2 separate regions of the Homo sapiens genome follow, and region 2 is linked to region 1. The links come from fine-mapping of genetic effects on gene expression. A gene starts in region 1. The other region holds a variant in brackets. All regions are shown on one strand. Distances are between the middles of the regions.

Evidence for each region. PIP is the estimated chance that this variant, and not a neighbour inherited with it, causes the effect.
Region 2: its variant is the best candidate, but not a certain one, in a credible set for the expression of CD2AP in iPS cells (HipSci, PIP 0.58).

Annotation. Positions count from the first base shown.
Region 1 is chr6:47,472,840-47,481,131 of GRCh38, reverse strand. CD2AP (CD2 associated protein) reads right to left here and starts at 3,343. Exons shown (of 18, transcript NM_012120.3): 1 at 2,884-3,343. The coding sequence starts at 2,887. CD2AP-DT (CD2AP divergent transcript) reads left to right here and starts at 3,060. Exons shown (of 1, transcript NR_187257.1): 1 at 3,060-3,889. RefSeq lists an enhancer at 2,059-2,785 and a silencer at 3,072-3,581.
Region 2 is chr6:47,438,860-47,447,195 of GRCh38, reverse strand. No RefSeq gene overlaps it. Among named protein-coding and RNA genes, the nearest start is that of CD2AP, 35 kb to the left of the region's middle. RefSeq lists a silencer at 1-203 and an enhancer at 2,448-3,181. The variant A/G (reference allele first, on the strand shown) is at 5,104.

The DNA.
Region 1 (8,292 bases):
CAAAATGCCGATCTGTATTTTTGGAATAAGAAAAATAAGCACTGCCTATCTGTCTCCCTAGAGCTCTTCCCAAATTCTTTCACACAGAATACCTCAAACTTCTCAATAGGCATTTTATCACATTTAACAAATGTAGACACTAAAAACATAAACTTCAAATAAGTCTACTAGTAGTCATCCCACTTAAGAGTTTTTCCTAAGCAACTAAAGCTCTTACCAATAATGGACTTTCGCACAGTACATCCAACATTGAAAAAAGTATCTATGTGGTTTCTGTAAGGTTATATCACATAAAATTCAATTTCTGCCTTAGTGCAAAATCATCTCATCCCTCTGGTCCTTTATTTAAAGAAAATATCCTACTTCTAACAAAGGTCAAAAATTGAGATTTTTTTTTTCCCAAGTTGGTACAAGAATTAGGGAAATCATTTGAAAATGAAAATCACCACCGCCAGCACTGGCAGTGTTCTAAGCACTTTACAAGTAGTAACTCATTCAATCCTCCTAACAACCTATGAGGTTGATATTTTATTCCATTTATAGATTGAGAAACTGAAGCACAGAGAAGTAATGTGCTCAGTCACACAGCCAGTAGGTAGAAGAGAATTTGACCTCAAGTAGTCTCTGTCCAGAGCCCATGCTTTTAACTCTCTAGCTGTACCACCTAAACTTAAGAACCACCATTTAATAGGCATCCAAATTATCTTACACACAAAAAAAATTTCAGATTTTTTCATTTTGTGACAAATTAGATAAAATATCATGTAAATATTTTAGGCTGCATCTAAAATCATAAGAAAAAAGGATGGCTGGTAAAACCAAATAAATGAGATTTATATTAAAGAGCAAACTCCCTTTAAGTGAACTTGGGAATTTTATTATTACATGACCAATAAACTTAAAGAATATATATATTGATATGGAAATGTTTCACAAACACTTTACAAAAACTTAACCACAAATGCCCTCAGTAACATACCTTCAAAACACATTCTAAGTAGTCGAGAGTATACCAACATTGATATCCAAGTCTATATGAAAACTCACCTAAACAGAACACAACAAATAAATCACAAAGAAAAAGCCTCTGGACAATCAAAATAGGTATTCCAATGTCCAAGTATTGGTACACATTTACTTTTCTCCAGAGACGACCTCACACACTAAGTAACGGCCTACTGATTTTTCCCCTATGCAGAATCACAAACCTGAATATGATTTCCACACTTCTAAAAAAAAATTAGAAAAGGAAAGATGATGGGGGACACTAATCAGTTACAAGCACATCCAAAAGCAAAGCAAAAAAAAAAAGTATTTAAATAATTTCAAAATGCGAACAAATATTATTTAGAATTTAGCTCAAAAGCCCTATATGCAAAACAAGACTGCATCCCCAGGTCATCCAAAGTAGTTTAATTTTATTCTGCATCCCATTTAAGACAGAAAAGAACTGTGTAATTAACTTTAGTATTATCTTAATCCAAAGCAGTTAAAGTGATTTTATAATTTCATACTTAAAAGAATATGCCCACAATTGCCCTGCAAGCTCAACTAATCAATTATAAAATAATTCATTTGAAAATTCCAAATAGCAAATGTTTTATTTCACTGTTTTTGAGCTCAAGAGCACTTTTGAGTATGAAAGTTACCTGAAAGGAGGGAGGTGGAGAAGGGAACATAAAATTAGAAAAGTCTAAGAAAACAGAGGATAGCTAGGCGAGTGTCTATAAACAATATGCTCAAAACATCCCCCACAAAGCAAAGTGTGGACAGAGGGTGCCACATCAGCAGTAGTCTGTATTCGTCCTGCTTCTAAATCATTTGTTAATTACATGAATTATTCATTTCGGTGATCGTTTGTTGATATGAAGCAGTACCAACTCTCAACTGCAAAAAGTGATAGGGTCCTCCTGATTTGCTCTACAAAAATCAAACTTGGGTTTACTCTTACAGAACACGTTCTGCCTTATAGAGACACAGGGTGTTTTGTTTTTTGTAAGCTATTCTTAAGTTGCTTTTAATTTTTAAAGGATTGAGGGAGTTAGTTTAATGCCTAGCCCACACCGAACTTTGTTATCAAAAGAAATTGTTACACCACTTAACAAAACTCCTTTTCAACCCGGACTGCCACACATTCTGCCTTCTCTAACTTCAAACAAAACTATAAAGCACATAGTAAATAACATATAAGGCCTTGTATTTTTCTCTCCTCCGGCAAGGAAGTCTAACTCCAAACAGGAAACTGCTCCTCAAAGGATCCAACACTGAAGTCCAAACCCAGTCCTCGGGAGCACACTGAATGCTTAGGTGCCAACACACTTGCCTAGGTAGAACCCGAGTAAAACAAATACTCAAGCTTTCCTGTCCTTGAGGCACCCCTTGCGAGTTTCAGCAGGAAAAAAAAAAAGTTTTTGAACAAATTTATCTCTCTCCTTAAACGTATTCAAAGCCTCGCAGAAAATAAAGAAGTTGAAAGTGCTACTTTATCAAGTTTTTCGATCGCCCTCCCCCATCCCACGAGGAGGGGGAGGGAAGCAAGGGGATGAGGAAGGGAAGGAAGGTCAGGTCTGATTTTAGCTGGGCAAGGGGTTAGCAGAGGTGGCCAGGCGCCCCCGCCCCCCATCCCGCACCTTTCTGGTGAACAGGAAAAGAGGCGGAGAAGGGAGAGCGAGGGAAAGCACCCGCGAGCTCTCCCACCAGTTTCTCCGTGAGAAGAGCAAGGTGGAAGGCAGGGCAAGAAGGGGCGGTGGGGAGAATGGAGAGGGTGGGGTGCTGCCGCTCAGGGGCTGACCGCAGTCGCCTCCCCAGAAGGCCGAGAAAGGGCACAGCCTCCCCGGGTCTGGAAGGTCCGGACGGGCGGCGGGAAGCGCCCGAGTCTCTTACCCATGCTGGGGGCTCCCGCGGGGAGAAGCCGACGTCCGCTCCTCCTCCTCCTCCTCCAGTGGTGGCTCGCGCGGCCGCTCCCGCGGCTGGAGGCGGGACCCGCGCTCCGCGCTAGCCCCTCCTGAGCTCAGGCGGGGCGAAGAGTCGCCTCCATCCGCCCGCGGCGCTCTCCTACCAGTCTCTTCAGCGCGGCCCTCGAGGCAGAGGCAAAGGCGGCGACAGCTCCTCACCCCTGGCCTCCCCAGGAGCCACGGCGGCGGGAGGGCCCTACCCCGCCCGCCCGACCGCGGTTTTCCCACCCTGGCCGCTCCCGCAGTGGGGAGGGACCCACCGGTTTGCCCAGACCCTCGGCTCCAACCCCGAGCGCCCGCCTAGCCTCGGAGCCCGCCCCTCGCCTCTTCCTTAGCACTCGCAGTTAGAAAAGGCGACACCGTAGACTAAGGTGGGGACCCAGACAGAGGCCGAGAAGGTGCGGGGAGCTGGGACCGGGAGGAGGCAAATCTCGCGAGAACGCCCTCGTTCTCCCCGCCCCACCCCGCCCCGTCGCGTTCGGGCTCTCTCCCGGTCCCCACGGCTGCTGCCAGGTGCGGTGACGTCACGGCCGGGGGTCGCGCGCCGACCGCGTCCAGGTGCAGCGAGCGGATGAGGAAGCGGTGCAGAGGAGCTTGGGCTCGCTCTCCCCCCGGAGGCTCGGAACAGCTTGGGCGGGCGTTTGGTCTGGTTTGTCGCCTCAGATGGATCAAAAGGTTTCTGCTGATAGGCAAAGTTGCCCCACTTTCCGCGGCGGCGACGCGGAGTTACTTTCTGCAGCGAAGCAGCCTCGAGGACCTTAAAGGGAAAAGGCGGACAGAAGGAGGGCGAGCGCACTTGATTTCGACCTTTAAGGGAGGCCCAGATGCTGCCAGGCCCCTCAGTTTACCTTGCGAAGTTACTTACGGATCAGCAGCATTTGGTCTTCGTCGGGTGAGGGAGAAACCTAGGCATCAAATAAATTCTGTTTCACAGATTCCTTTAGTCTCTTGTCAGCTGAATGCAACTTTATAATTTGCTTTTTTTCTTTTTAAAGTATAATTTGAGTTGTTACTTGATCGAGAGAAAAATAGGCATCATGATTTGAAATACTGCCAGGCATTTTTTCTAGCGTCAATGTGAAGGAGGGCATAGGATTACTATAGTCAGTCAAACATGAGCTTGGTAGTTACGAAGAAGTATAATTATTTCAGCAAGCTTTTTTTCCCCCTTCTGTTTAAGTAGACCCAATTCCAGGGCAGATGTGTGTGTGAGCGTTTGTTGAACGCCAACTATTGTGCCTAGTGCTTTTTCAAGAAATTTTGTAATTCTCAGTCATCCAGCACTGAAACTGACTTGCCCTTTGGATCCAGGCAGACATGGGTCCTTGAAACTCAGCACAGCCATTTACTTTTTGTGGGACCTTGGATAAATTAACCTGTCTGAACTTCAATTTCTTGAGTATGTTCAAACAAATCTTGCAATGCAGAGCACAGTGGCCCATAGTAGTAACCTTGGACGTATCCATTACCACTATTTCCTATAGGCCTGCTTTTGCCATCTTTTAATTCTTCTAATGCTTCTCAAAAGGTTACATGTGGTAATTTTATAACAAGAATGATCAAACTCACAAACAGCAGCCAAAAAGGATAAAAGAAAAAAGTTGAATATACTCACCTAAACAAGATTACATTGACATCATGGAACATGTGCCTTTTTTAGGTAACAAATATGTGTTCAGCATTATGTTCGTTGTCCCCTACCAAGCAAAAAAATAAAAAGCTAAAGTACAGCGCTAATCCTCAGAGATTTTGCATTCTTCTAGGGGGGTGAGATACGAACACAAAGTTAATTAACAGTATGAGGTAGTGAGGGTCAAATGCTTGAGAATTTAAAGGAAAATAAATTACTGTGGGCAAAGCAAGCTGTAAAGAGAAGGTATGAGTTGAACGAAAGCTTGGGGAAGGCAATAATTCAGTCTGGAGGAGTCCTAGAACTGAGGAATGGAAGTGGATATGCAAACAGAGTATTTCTGAGCCTTTAAGAAATGTGTGTGGCTCAAGCAGCCCATAAGGAAGGCCATTTACGATTTGGAAGAATGAGGCTGGTGATGGGCTAAGAAGGATTCATGAAAGGAGACAAAAATATAAGCTATTGGAAGCACATACATAGGTAGTAAATTCAAGGCCCAGAGCCCTTAAGTTTCTAGAGACTAAATTTCTAGGTCTCTAGAATCCTTAATATTTAAAGAAGAAAGGCCAATGAATAGAATGGAAAAGAAGTTAAGTAAAACAGAAGGGGGAATAAAGACTATCAGATTTGATAATAAGGGCATCTTTGAAAATATAATTTCAGAATATATATAATAGAATATATAATATATAACTACATATTCAGAATATATATATAATAGAAAATTCAGATTAAAGGTTTTATCAATTGAATGATAAGGAAGTGGAGGCCACAGATAAGGTAGATATTTTCTGAGAAGTCAGGTCACATGATCTGACAACAAGATAAAACATTTACAATCATTTATGTCCTAGAAATTCCAGGATCTTCACACTTGTAATCCCAGCAATTTGGGAGGCCAAGGGAGGAGGAGCACTTGAACCCAGGAGTTTGAGACCAGCCTGGGCAACATAGCAAGACTCCATCTCTACAAAAAAAAAAAAAAAAAAAATACAAAAATTAGCCCAGGTATGGTGGCACAGGCCTGCGGTCTCAACTACTTGGGAGGCGGAAGTGAGAGGATCACCTGAGTCCAGGGCCGTCGAGGCTGCAGTGAACTGTGATCCTGCCACTGCACTCCACCCAGCCTGGATGACAGAGTGAGACCCTGTCTCAAAAAAAAAAAAAAAAAAAATTCTAGCATCAGTTATTGCCATAATTAATGTACGTATTTTACAAGTTTAAAAGTTAAATTCACTTTGCAAATTCAGAGGCATTATCCATTGAGGTAATGATGAGATGACAAATCATAGAAATTGGAAGGATCAGGGAATAGAACCCCTAAGAATGGTTGAGAAAACTGAAGTAAATCTAAGAAGTAATCGCAATCCCAAATTTAATGTTGTTTTCCAAAGACAAAGCCAAAGGAAATTCTAACAGAAGAATGAAATCTAGCAATTTACTTTTAAACTTACAAAATGGTATGTAAAAATACCTTCTAAACTTTTGAATGCTATGCAAATATTAGTTATTAATTATTCCTTTAAGCTCTTTTCATCCTTTAAATCTTACCTTCTCAGCTATAAGAGGCCTTCAAGGTATGGCAGTATGTTTTATACGTTTTTATATGGCTACCACCGTCTGCAGCTCAAAACATTGCGTTCCCTGGCAATAATTATTAGTTGAATGAGAGAAAATATGGTGAGAAGATAATTTCTACTTACCACATATATTAAATTTAAATTCCTTTAATCTAAAAACAAATTATCTTTTACTTTTCCCTTTATTTTATTGTTACCTTTATACTGGATTAGGTTTGTTTCTGTCCATCTGTCCTTATTCTTCTTTGTATTCCAGTACAAATGGACTAACACCACTCTAATCATTCACTTTCTTTTTTTCTGCCAAGTACTAAACATGTTGATCTGATATCAAGGAGAGCACTACAGTTCTGTGTGAATGACACAATTTCAGACCAACGTAATTCATGCTAAACTGCCATGATTTCTTCCTGAAGTTTTCTTAGGAATTTATCTGAAGATATCTATATTTTAAAAAAGCATCTGCCTTCTTTCCTTTTGGTAAAAACTATTATAACCAAGAAGATTATGCTAAAGAAAAATAAGTGTTAACTAAATTATATTATTTTTAAAGCACTCATTTAGCTAAAATCTTGTGACTAATTATTTTTTCTTTATTCTCATTCAAAAGTACTAGGTTTCCTGGGAAGTTTTCTTACTGCTACCTTGTTTTGGCCTGGCTAATTTACTGTAAACTTAAGCCCAAATTACATCAATGTATAATCTGCATTTTAAAAATCATTCTTTAGAAAACAATTGTAGGAAATAATAACCTCAATCAGAATGCCTATACTGTGAGATCATTGAAGCTGAAAAATCCCCCTGCTCAAACTGGTGGCCCATTCAGCTTGCAACAAAATACTGTTCCTCGACTAGCAACTTGGGGGATGTCCTCAGGCCTATGACCACTCTAAGCACTTTTCATTATTGCATACTAAGAAAGAGTTAATTAAAAACATGATGACCCATCTAAATGAATCACCACTTGCCAACTGCAAGGACCTTTTTAATGGTGTTATTTGCACTTTATTCAGATGCTAGTGTCATAAAGCTGGCATTTGATAGGCAAGTCATAGGAGACTCATAGGCCTTTAAAGGGAATATCTTTCAAGAAGCATTACTCCTCCCAAATATTAAAGCTAGCTCCTTTTGAAGGGTCACATATTTTAAGTAATCTCAAATAACAAATACATTTGCATTTTCAAATATCAGGCAGTTAAATTATACACATGGTATTATGTAAATAATTTCCAGTCACAAGTACACATTTATTCAACTCAACAGATGTTTTTCTGATCACCCATTACAAATGAGCAGCTTCTGGATGATAAATATAGAGATAGAAATAAAGTCCTTGCCCTTAAAAGAGAAAGGATTGGGGAGTCTCTCGAGGGTACATTGGAATTCTCAGTAAGGACAAGGAAGGGTAGTCAGGTAGCCAGGACAATAGGCAGGTATACAATCCAAAGCCCAGGATGGGCGTGGTAGTTCACGCCTGTAATCCCAATACTTTGGGAGGCCAAGGCGGGCAGATCACCTGAGGTCAGGAGTTCAAGACCAGCCTGGTCAACATGGCGAAACCCTATCTCTACTAAAAATACAAAAATTAGCCAGGCATGGTGGTGGGTGCCTGTAATCCCAGCTACTTGGGAGGCTGAGGCAGGAGAATCACTTGAACCCGGGAAGCAGAGGTTGCAGTGAGCCAAGATCATGCCACTGCACTCCAGCCTGGGTGGCAGAGTAAGACTCCATCTCAAAAAAAAAAAAAAAAAAGGCTAGGATGTCTTTGAGGGGCCAGGCTCTGAGACCACACTCAAATATGGAGAGCACTGTGTGCCAGGGAAGTAATTTGACGTCTTGTTCTAGAAGTAAGAGGCAATTAATGAAGTATTTTAAGTAGGCAACTGATTTGCTTTTCCAGCTACATCCACGGTCATAAAAAAAATGCACACAAGTCACAAAAAATTAGGTACAAAAAAATTTGGTTAAATAAGCATTGATTAAGCACCCACTACCCTCAAATAATTAGTAAATATGTTTTTTTACTAATACAATAAATGTTTAAACTAATATAAGATACAAGGGATTTCATATGCTGGACACTGTGAAAGATTCATTGCAGCAAACACAAACTCTGCCTTCAAGGAAT
Region 2 (8,336 bases), 34 kb after region 1:
GTTGTGACTCCAGCTCCCACGTGTCTGAGATCAAAGCCTGTACTTTTCTTACCACACCATAGGTCACTGTCAACTACTTTAGGTTCTACAAGAAATTATGTGTCAAGAATTGTTTCATTCAACCCTTTGTTCAACACTATTTTGAGCAAGTATAGTATACAAGTCACTGTGCCAAGATTCTGTTCAAAGTGAGTTTCTGGGTTCTTAGAGGAAATAAAAATATGTGCCTGAATAAATGTAATGCAATATGGAAAGCAAAATTAACATGAGAATTAATGTGCTTCCGGGAGGAAATACTGCTGCTGAAGAAGAAATGTGACATTTGAGCTGGGCTTTGGAAAATAGAGTGATTTGGATGTGCTGAAATGTGACAGGGAGAGCATCCCAGGCAGAAAGAACAGCATGCTTGTGGGAAAATGAAATGCATGTCTAGGAAATACCAAATAGTTTAGTGCAGCTCTAGCATATAGTATGAGAAAGTTAATGAGGAATATGTTGGATAAATGGATTGACCTAGATGAGGGAGGGTCAGAAATGCCAGGCTAATGAATTCTGTGATGTTCTCTAGGCAATGGGGAGTCACAATTGATATCTCAAAAGTAGGGCAATGATCATGGCCCCAGATAGCTTTTTTTGTGTGTAAAGAACATACTGTGTAGGGCAGAGAATAAGGTGGGAGAATGTTGAAGGCTTTTATGGTTCCAAGAGAGAGCTAACGACAGTCTGGGTTATAGTACTGTCCAGCCTTCTTCTATTCCTCTTTTTTTAAATTTAAATTAATTTTTTTTTAGAGACAGGTTTCTCTCTGTCACCCAGGCTGAAGTGCAATGGTGTGATCATGGCTTACTGCAGCCTCCACCTCATAGGCTCAAGTGATCCTCCCACCTCAGCCTCCCAAGTAGATGGGACTACAAGCGTGCATCAAAACACCTGGCTAACGTTTAAATTTTTTGTAGAGATGGGGGTCTCCCTTTGTTGCCCAGACTGGTCTCAAACATCTGGGCTTATGTGATCCTCCTGCCCCAGCCTCCCAAAGTGTAGTGATTACATGTGTGAGGCCCCTGTACCTGGCCTTCTATTCCTTTTTAAGGCCACTCAATCCTTATATACACCACCCAACTGCTGGCCTACCAAATGGGGTCTTGACCTACCCCACTTTGCCTTTTCTGAACCTCCTCTGCCTTCATCTGCATTCAATAATCAAGATTCTTGGCTCTCTGGCTTCTGCCTTTAAATGGGCCCATGTATCTGACTTTCATCCTTACTTTTCTGGTATTTGGTCACCTGTTTTCTCCCATGCATTCTGCTTTGATTCACTTTCCGATCCTTGAATTATTCCATCATCTCAGGTAGGCTGATGATGCCTCAGCCTCTGCCTTAGTCCTGTAGAACACACTTCCACATGTAGCAGTCAGGATTCATGGTTGCAAGCAGAAACTATTCTATAATAACTAATTTAAGCAGAAAAATAAGGTGAATTTAATAAGGATATTTGGTACCTCATTGAATCTGCAAGGGGTCTGGAGAGTAAGGTCCAGAGGCTCTGCGGCCAGCATCCATGCCCATGTCACACTCTGAGGGCTGCTCAAGGCGAGAGGGTGCTACAGCTCCTGCATGGTACAGACACCACAGCCTCCACCAATAACTCTGGAGACCCAACACCAGAAATTTCACCACCGGTGCCTGGCAGAGCTGGTGCCTCTCTTGTCATTCTTATGAAATGGTAGATGACAAGGGCTCCTGCTTCCTAGGGTTGTTCAGTTCTGAAGTGAAAACTTTATGATCATGTCTGATTGGCAAAGCCTAAGAGGATGCAGAGATGAATTGATATGGTTTGGCTCTGTCCCCACCCAAATCTCACTTTGAATTGTTGCTCCAACAATTCCCATGTGTCATGGGAGGAACTCAATGGGAAGTAATTGAATCATGGGGGTAGGTCTTTCCCATGCTGTTCTCATGATAGTGAGTAAGTCTCATGAGATCTGATGGTTTTATAAGGGCAAGTTTCCCTGCACAAACTCTTTTCTTGCCTGCCGCCATGTAAGATGGTCCCTTGCTCTTCCGCCATGATTGTGAGGCCTCCCCAGCCATGTGGAACTGTGAGTCAATTACACCTTTTTCCTTTATAAATTATCCAGTCTCAGGTATGTCTTTATGAGCAGCATGAAAACGGACTAATATATGGATGTATCACAAAGCTAATGAATCTTAAGCCTCAGGGCCCTGTACTTATGCAGACCCTTTCCAAGGCCCTGGGAGAGCCCTAGGAATAAATGTCTGTCCTATGTTTTTGTAAAATTTGCAGTAGAAATATTGTACCTGCAATTCTGACTTCTGTCAACCTCACTAAATTTACACAATATTATCAATCATCAGTTGTGAAGCTTAAAGACACTTTTCTAAACTGTCAATCAAAAAATCAATTGACCAGATAGGACAAAGGAGACTAAAGTACTTTTTTTCTTTTTATAAAAAAAAAATTGGTCTCCCTCTCCCTTTCCCTCTCCCTCTCCCTCTCCCCCCACTTTCCACGGTCTCCCTCTGATGCCGCTCCCTCATCTCGCACTTTCCACGGTCTCCCTCTGATGCCGAGTCGAGGCTGGACTGTACTGCCGCCATCTGGGCTCACTGCAACCTCCCTGCCTGATTCTCCTGCCTCAGCCTGCCCAGTGCCTGGGATTGCAGGCGCGTGCCGCCACGCCTGACCGGTTTTTGTATTTTTTGGTGGAGACGCGGTTTTGCCGTGTTGGCCAGGCTGGTCTCCAGCTCCTGACCGCGAGTGATCTGCCCGCCTGGGCCTCCCGAGGTGCCAGGATTGCAGACGGAGTCTCGCTCACTCAGTGCTCAATGTTGCCCAGGCCGCCCATCGTCTGAGATGTGGGGAGCTCCTCTGCCCCGCCGCCCTGTCTGGGATGTGAGAAGCGCCTCTGCCCGGCCGCGACCCCGTCTGGGATCTGAGGAGTGTCTCTGCCCGACCGCCACCCCATCTGGGAGGTGAGGAGCGTCTCTGCCCGGCCGCCCCGTCTGAGAAGTGAGGAGCCCCTCCGCCTGGCAGCCGCCCCATCTGGGAAGTGAGGAGCGTCTTGCCGGGCAGCCGCCCCGTCCGGGAGGTGGAGGGCAGCACCCCCCCCCCAGCCAGCCGCCCGTCCGGGAGGGAGGTGGGGGGCAACCCCTGCCCGGCCAGCCACCCAGTCCGGGAGGGAGGTGGGGGGCAGCCCCCGCCCGGCCGCTGCCCCGTCCAGGAGGTGGGGGGCGCCTCTGCCTGGCCATCCCGTCTGGGAAGTGAGGAGCCCCTCTGCCCGGCCGCCACCCTGTCTGGGAGGTGTACCCAACAGCTCATTGAGAAAGGGCCATGATGACGATGACGGTTTTGTCGAATAGAAAAGGGGGAAATGTGGGGAAAAGAAAGAGAGATCAGATTGTTACTGTGTCTCTGTAGAAAGAAGTAGACATAGGAGACTCCATTTTGTTCTGTACTAAGAAAAATTCTGTCTTGGGATGCTGTTAATCTATAACCTTACCCCCAACCCTGTGCTCTCTGAAGCATGTGCTGTGTCCACTTAGGGTTAAATGGATTAAGGGCGGTGCAAGATGTGCTTTGTTAAACAGATGCTTGAAGGCAGCATGCTCATTAAGAGTCATCACCACTCCCTAATCTCAAGTACCCAGGGACACAAACACTGCGGAAGGCCGCAGGGTCCTCTGCCTAGGAAAACCAGAGACCCTTGTTCACATGTTTATCTGCTGACCTTCCCTCCACTGTTGTCCTATGACCCTGCCAAATCCCCCTCTCCGAGAAACACCCAAGAATGATCAATAAATACTAAAAAAAAAAAAAAAAAAAAAAATCACAGATCTGGATGTGGTGGCTCATGCCTGTAATCCGAACACTTCAGGAGGCCAAAGTGTGAGGATCACTTGTGGCCAGCAGTTCAAGACCGGCCTGAGCAAGCTAGTGAGATCCCTTCTCTACAAAAATATTTTAATATGAAAAATTATGAAATCATTGTCATGTGAATTAATAATCAAAGAGTTAAAATAATGTAGTTAAAATAATGAAGAAAAATATTAAAGAGGTACATTAGGCAAATTATTGATTTAAAAATTACATTGTTTTTCTGGATTTGTGGTGTTCATGGTACTGGTTATCTCCTAAAATTTGTAGTTTTGATTTTTTTTTCTCATTCAAATTGTGAAGTTAATTTTTAAACCTAATTTTAAATTTGTAATTTTGTTGCTTTGTAAAAAGAAGGCCCCAAAATTGTATTAGGGTCAAACCCCTACAAAACTGGAATCTGCCCCTGGCTGGATCGCTATATCCTAACTAAGATAGGGTAAGAGAGCCAGTCCTAGCTTCTGCCTTGAGAAAGGGCTCATCATATGCGGAATTCTCCAAACATAGGAAGGGTGTTTAAACATGCTAGGTGGCCTCAGACATGACAAATATCCCTTATACTATGCTTGAGTGTATGTTTGGTATTTAGGAATAGTACCTCTCTTGAGAAAATATACTTGGAAAGATTTTGGAAAGGGAATGGAGAGGCAGGAACACATGACAGAAATATTGCGTACACATGGTGAGAAATTGGATTGTGCATGAGACGTGATGACCCTGAGGGTTAGCATAGATAATTATCAGGATGGTGCTGGGTGCGGTGGCTCATGACTATAATCCTGGCACTTTGAGAGGCCAAGGCGGGGGATCTCTTGAGGCCAGGAGTTTGAGACCATCCTGGCCAAGATGGTGAAACCCCATCTCTGCTAAAAATACAAAAATTAGTAGGCCTGGTGGTCCATGTTTGTAATCCCAGCTACTCGCGAGGCTGAGGCAGGAGGATCACTTGAACCCAGGAGGCGGAGGTTGCAGTGAGTCAAGATTGTGCCATTGTACTCCAACCTGGGCAACAGAGTGAGACTCCATCTCAGAAAAAAAAAAAAAAAAGGCTGGGCACAGTGGCTCACACTTGTAATCCTGGCACTTTGGGAGGCTGAAGCCGGTGGACCATGAGGTCAGGAGTTCGAGGCCAGTCTGGCCAACATGGTGAACCCCGCGCCCCCCCGCCCACCCGTCTCTATTAAAAATACAAAAATTAGCTGGGCATG[A/G]TGGCAGGTGCTTGTAATCCCAACTACTCGGGAGGCTGAGTCATGGGAATCACATGAACCCTGGAGGCGGAGGTTGCAGTGAGCTGAGATCACACCACTGCACTCTAGCCTGGGCGATAGAGTGAGACTCGGTCTCAAAAAAAAAAAAAAAAAAGTATCAGGATGGCAATGCCAATAACCAAGATAGGCATCTCAAAGCTGATACAGATTCAGGGAGGAATTGGGGAGACAGAGAGTTGGATTTGAAACATTATGGGATTCAAATTGTATAAGTCTTTGGAAGGACCAAAGTTAGCAGAACTATTAGTATTAATTCACTAACTCTAAAAAAAAAAAAAAATCACCATTTCATAGTGCTGGATGAAGGGTAGTACAAACTACACTTATAAAATGTAACTTAGCAGTCAAAAGGGGTTAAATAAAATAACAGATCAATTTAGAAAAAAAATCAACAAATGTAATTGAAAGCCAGGTGTAATTAAAAGGCATATTAGGCAAAATATTACTCATGATTAAATACCAGAGATCCTGCTTTGATTTAACCAAATTTTAACCTTTTTTACCCTAAAAAAAATAGCACAACTAGAAAGTACTACCAAAACAAAAACCCAACCCAATATAGGCTGGGTGCGGTGGTTCACGCCTGTAATCCCAGCACTTTGTGGGCCCGAGGAGGGCAGATCACCTGAGGTCAGGAGTTTGAGACCAGCCTGGCCAACATGGTGAAAGCCTGTCTCAACTAAAAATACAAAAAATTAGCCGGGCATGGTGGCATGTGCCTGTAATCTCAGCTACTCAGGAGGCTGAGGCAGGAGAATCACTGGAACCTGGGAGGCAGAGGTTGCAGTGAGCTGAGATTGCGCCACTGCACTCCAGCCGGGACTACAGAGGGAGACTCCATCTCAAAACAAAAAACAAAAGAAAAAACAATATAATAGTATAATATTCTCATTTTACATATGGATAAACTAAGCCTTAGAGAGTAGTTAAATGACCTGCCTGTTTGTGGACAGTGGTCTGGACTCCAGTGCTCTTAGCCAGAACATTTTATTGTCTTTCAGCATTCAATTATGCTGCCTTCACTATTTTGCTGGAACACACCTATGTAGGAGAGCATTATGCAAATATATCGGCTTTGTTCCACCACAACCATGGTGAGCTAAATTTAACTTTGATAGCCTCACATCCTTATTAAGAAACAATGACCCATTCAGAGTTGCACAGAAACACGTGACCAATAAAATTGTATTCCTCGAGTGTCCAGCTTTTGGCAACTCTGCTGTTTAGGGTGTAGAGCTTGTATAAAGGAGGAACATGGCTTAATGTGACTTTGTTTGAATAACAGGAAGACAGAAGTTATTTGTATTCTAGTGAATTATATTTAGTCTTTTTTTTCCTTTCCAATTTCAGGTGGGGGACTTTAACTGGGCTCCAGGGAAAATGAGACCAGGAAGCTACGGGCATCCTTCCTGGAGCTTACCTACAGGTGTATGGTTGTACATCCCTATCCAAAGTAACCGTACCCTAATTTTCAGCCCTTTTTATTTCCTACATTTTATTCATCACAGTTACTTTTCTTATGTGTTTGCCTATTCTCTTTCTTTCTCCTAGAACATACACATTTTTTTTCTTTTCTTTTCTTTTTTTTTTTTTTTTTTTTTGAGACAGAGTCTCACTCTGTTGCCCAGGCTGGAGTGCAGTGGTGCAATCTTGGTTCACTGCAACCTCCACATCCCAGGTTCAAGCAATTCTTGTGCCTCAGCCTCCAGAGTAGCTGGGACTACTGGCATGTGCCAACACGCCCGGCTAATTTTTGTACTTTTAGTAGAGCCGGGTTTTCACCATGTTAGCCAGGCTGGTCTCGAACTCCTGACCTCAGGTGATCTGCCCGCCTCGGCCTCCCAAAGTGCTGGGGTCACAGGCATGAGCCACCACGCCCTGCCATAGAATATACACTTTTAACAGGGATAACATTACCCCTGAGGGAGTGAAAGTTGATTCTTGGGAGCAAAAAGCCATTGATATTTCTGTGTATAATGCATGGATATAGACACAGTACATAAATATATACACGATATCTGTGGTATCAAAATTCCATGGTGGAGCAGTTAGGAAAGGAGTGTCTAAAAATGTTTCTTAGGGGGCAATAATGAAAAAATGGTAGAGAAACAATATTCTGGGAACTAAATTTCAGAAGGGCAGGGCCTACAGAATCCTTGCAGATTGCAGTCCCAGTGTTTGCCAATGTCCCGCACAGAGTTAGGGCATAGTAAAGGGTATAATGAATATTTTGAAGAATCAACTGTTCATCCACCTTTTTGACAACAAATCACATTTCACATAGTGTTGTCATTATTTTAAAGAAGGGAAAAGCGGAGAGTTGGGTAAAGGAAGCTATGAAGTGGAAATGTGTTTCTTTTTAAGGAAACTAGGCAGGTAGGGCAGGAATACCTATATATAAAAAATTAAGTTTTCAACTCAGAAGTGAAGTTGCTTCTCTATTTTTCCAGAAGCCTACTCTGTCACAATTGACTAGTGCTGACTTTTAGATATCTTTGTGCAAAATGCCTAATTTAGAAACTAGCATACAGCATTCAAATCAGAACTTTTCTATTATTCTGAAAATAGAATGTTTTGCCTAAAGTCCTTCGTAGGTATTATTACATCTTCCACATGAGGCCAGACCCAAATGTGATGAGCTCAAAGCCCTGACTGCCAAGAAGCGGGTGTGACATCTGGGAGAAGAGAAGTGCAATGGTTCCAGACATTTATTTCATAGTATCCATTCTTGGCCAGAGAGGGCCGGCCCCATGCCTGTCTCCTAATAGACTAATATTGGGCTCCTTTTAGGTCAGCGTTGGGACAGCTGACGCTAATTGAGACAGTAAGCATTTCTTGTGGTCTATTTCTATTTCCCCAGCACAAGACTTCTTCTTGCAGCTTCCTCTTATCATGCAAAGTCACAACATCTGAGAGTTTTTCAGAAACAAAAGAAATGCTACAGTTATGATCTGGTGTTAACTGACTTCTCCTGGACCCTGTACTTTAAGTGCCCATGGTCATACAGGAAAACTCCTTTTTGTTTTTTTGTCTTGTTTTGTATTTGAGACAGGGTCTCACTCTGCTGCCCAGGCTGTAGTGCAGTGGTGCAATCTCGGCTCGCTGCAACCCCCGCTTCCCGGGTTCAAGTGATGCTCCCACCTCAGCCTCCCATGTAGCTGGGACTACAGGTG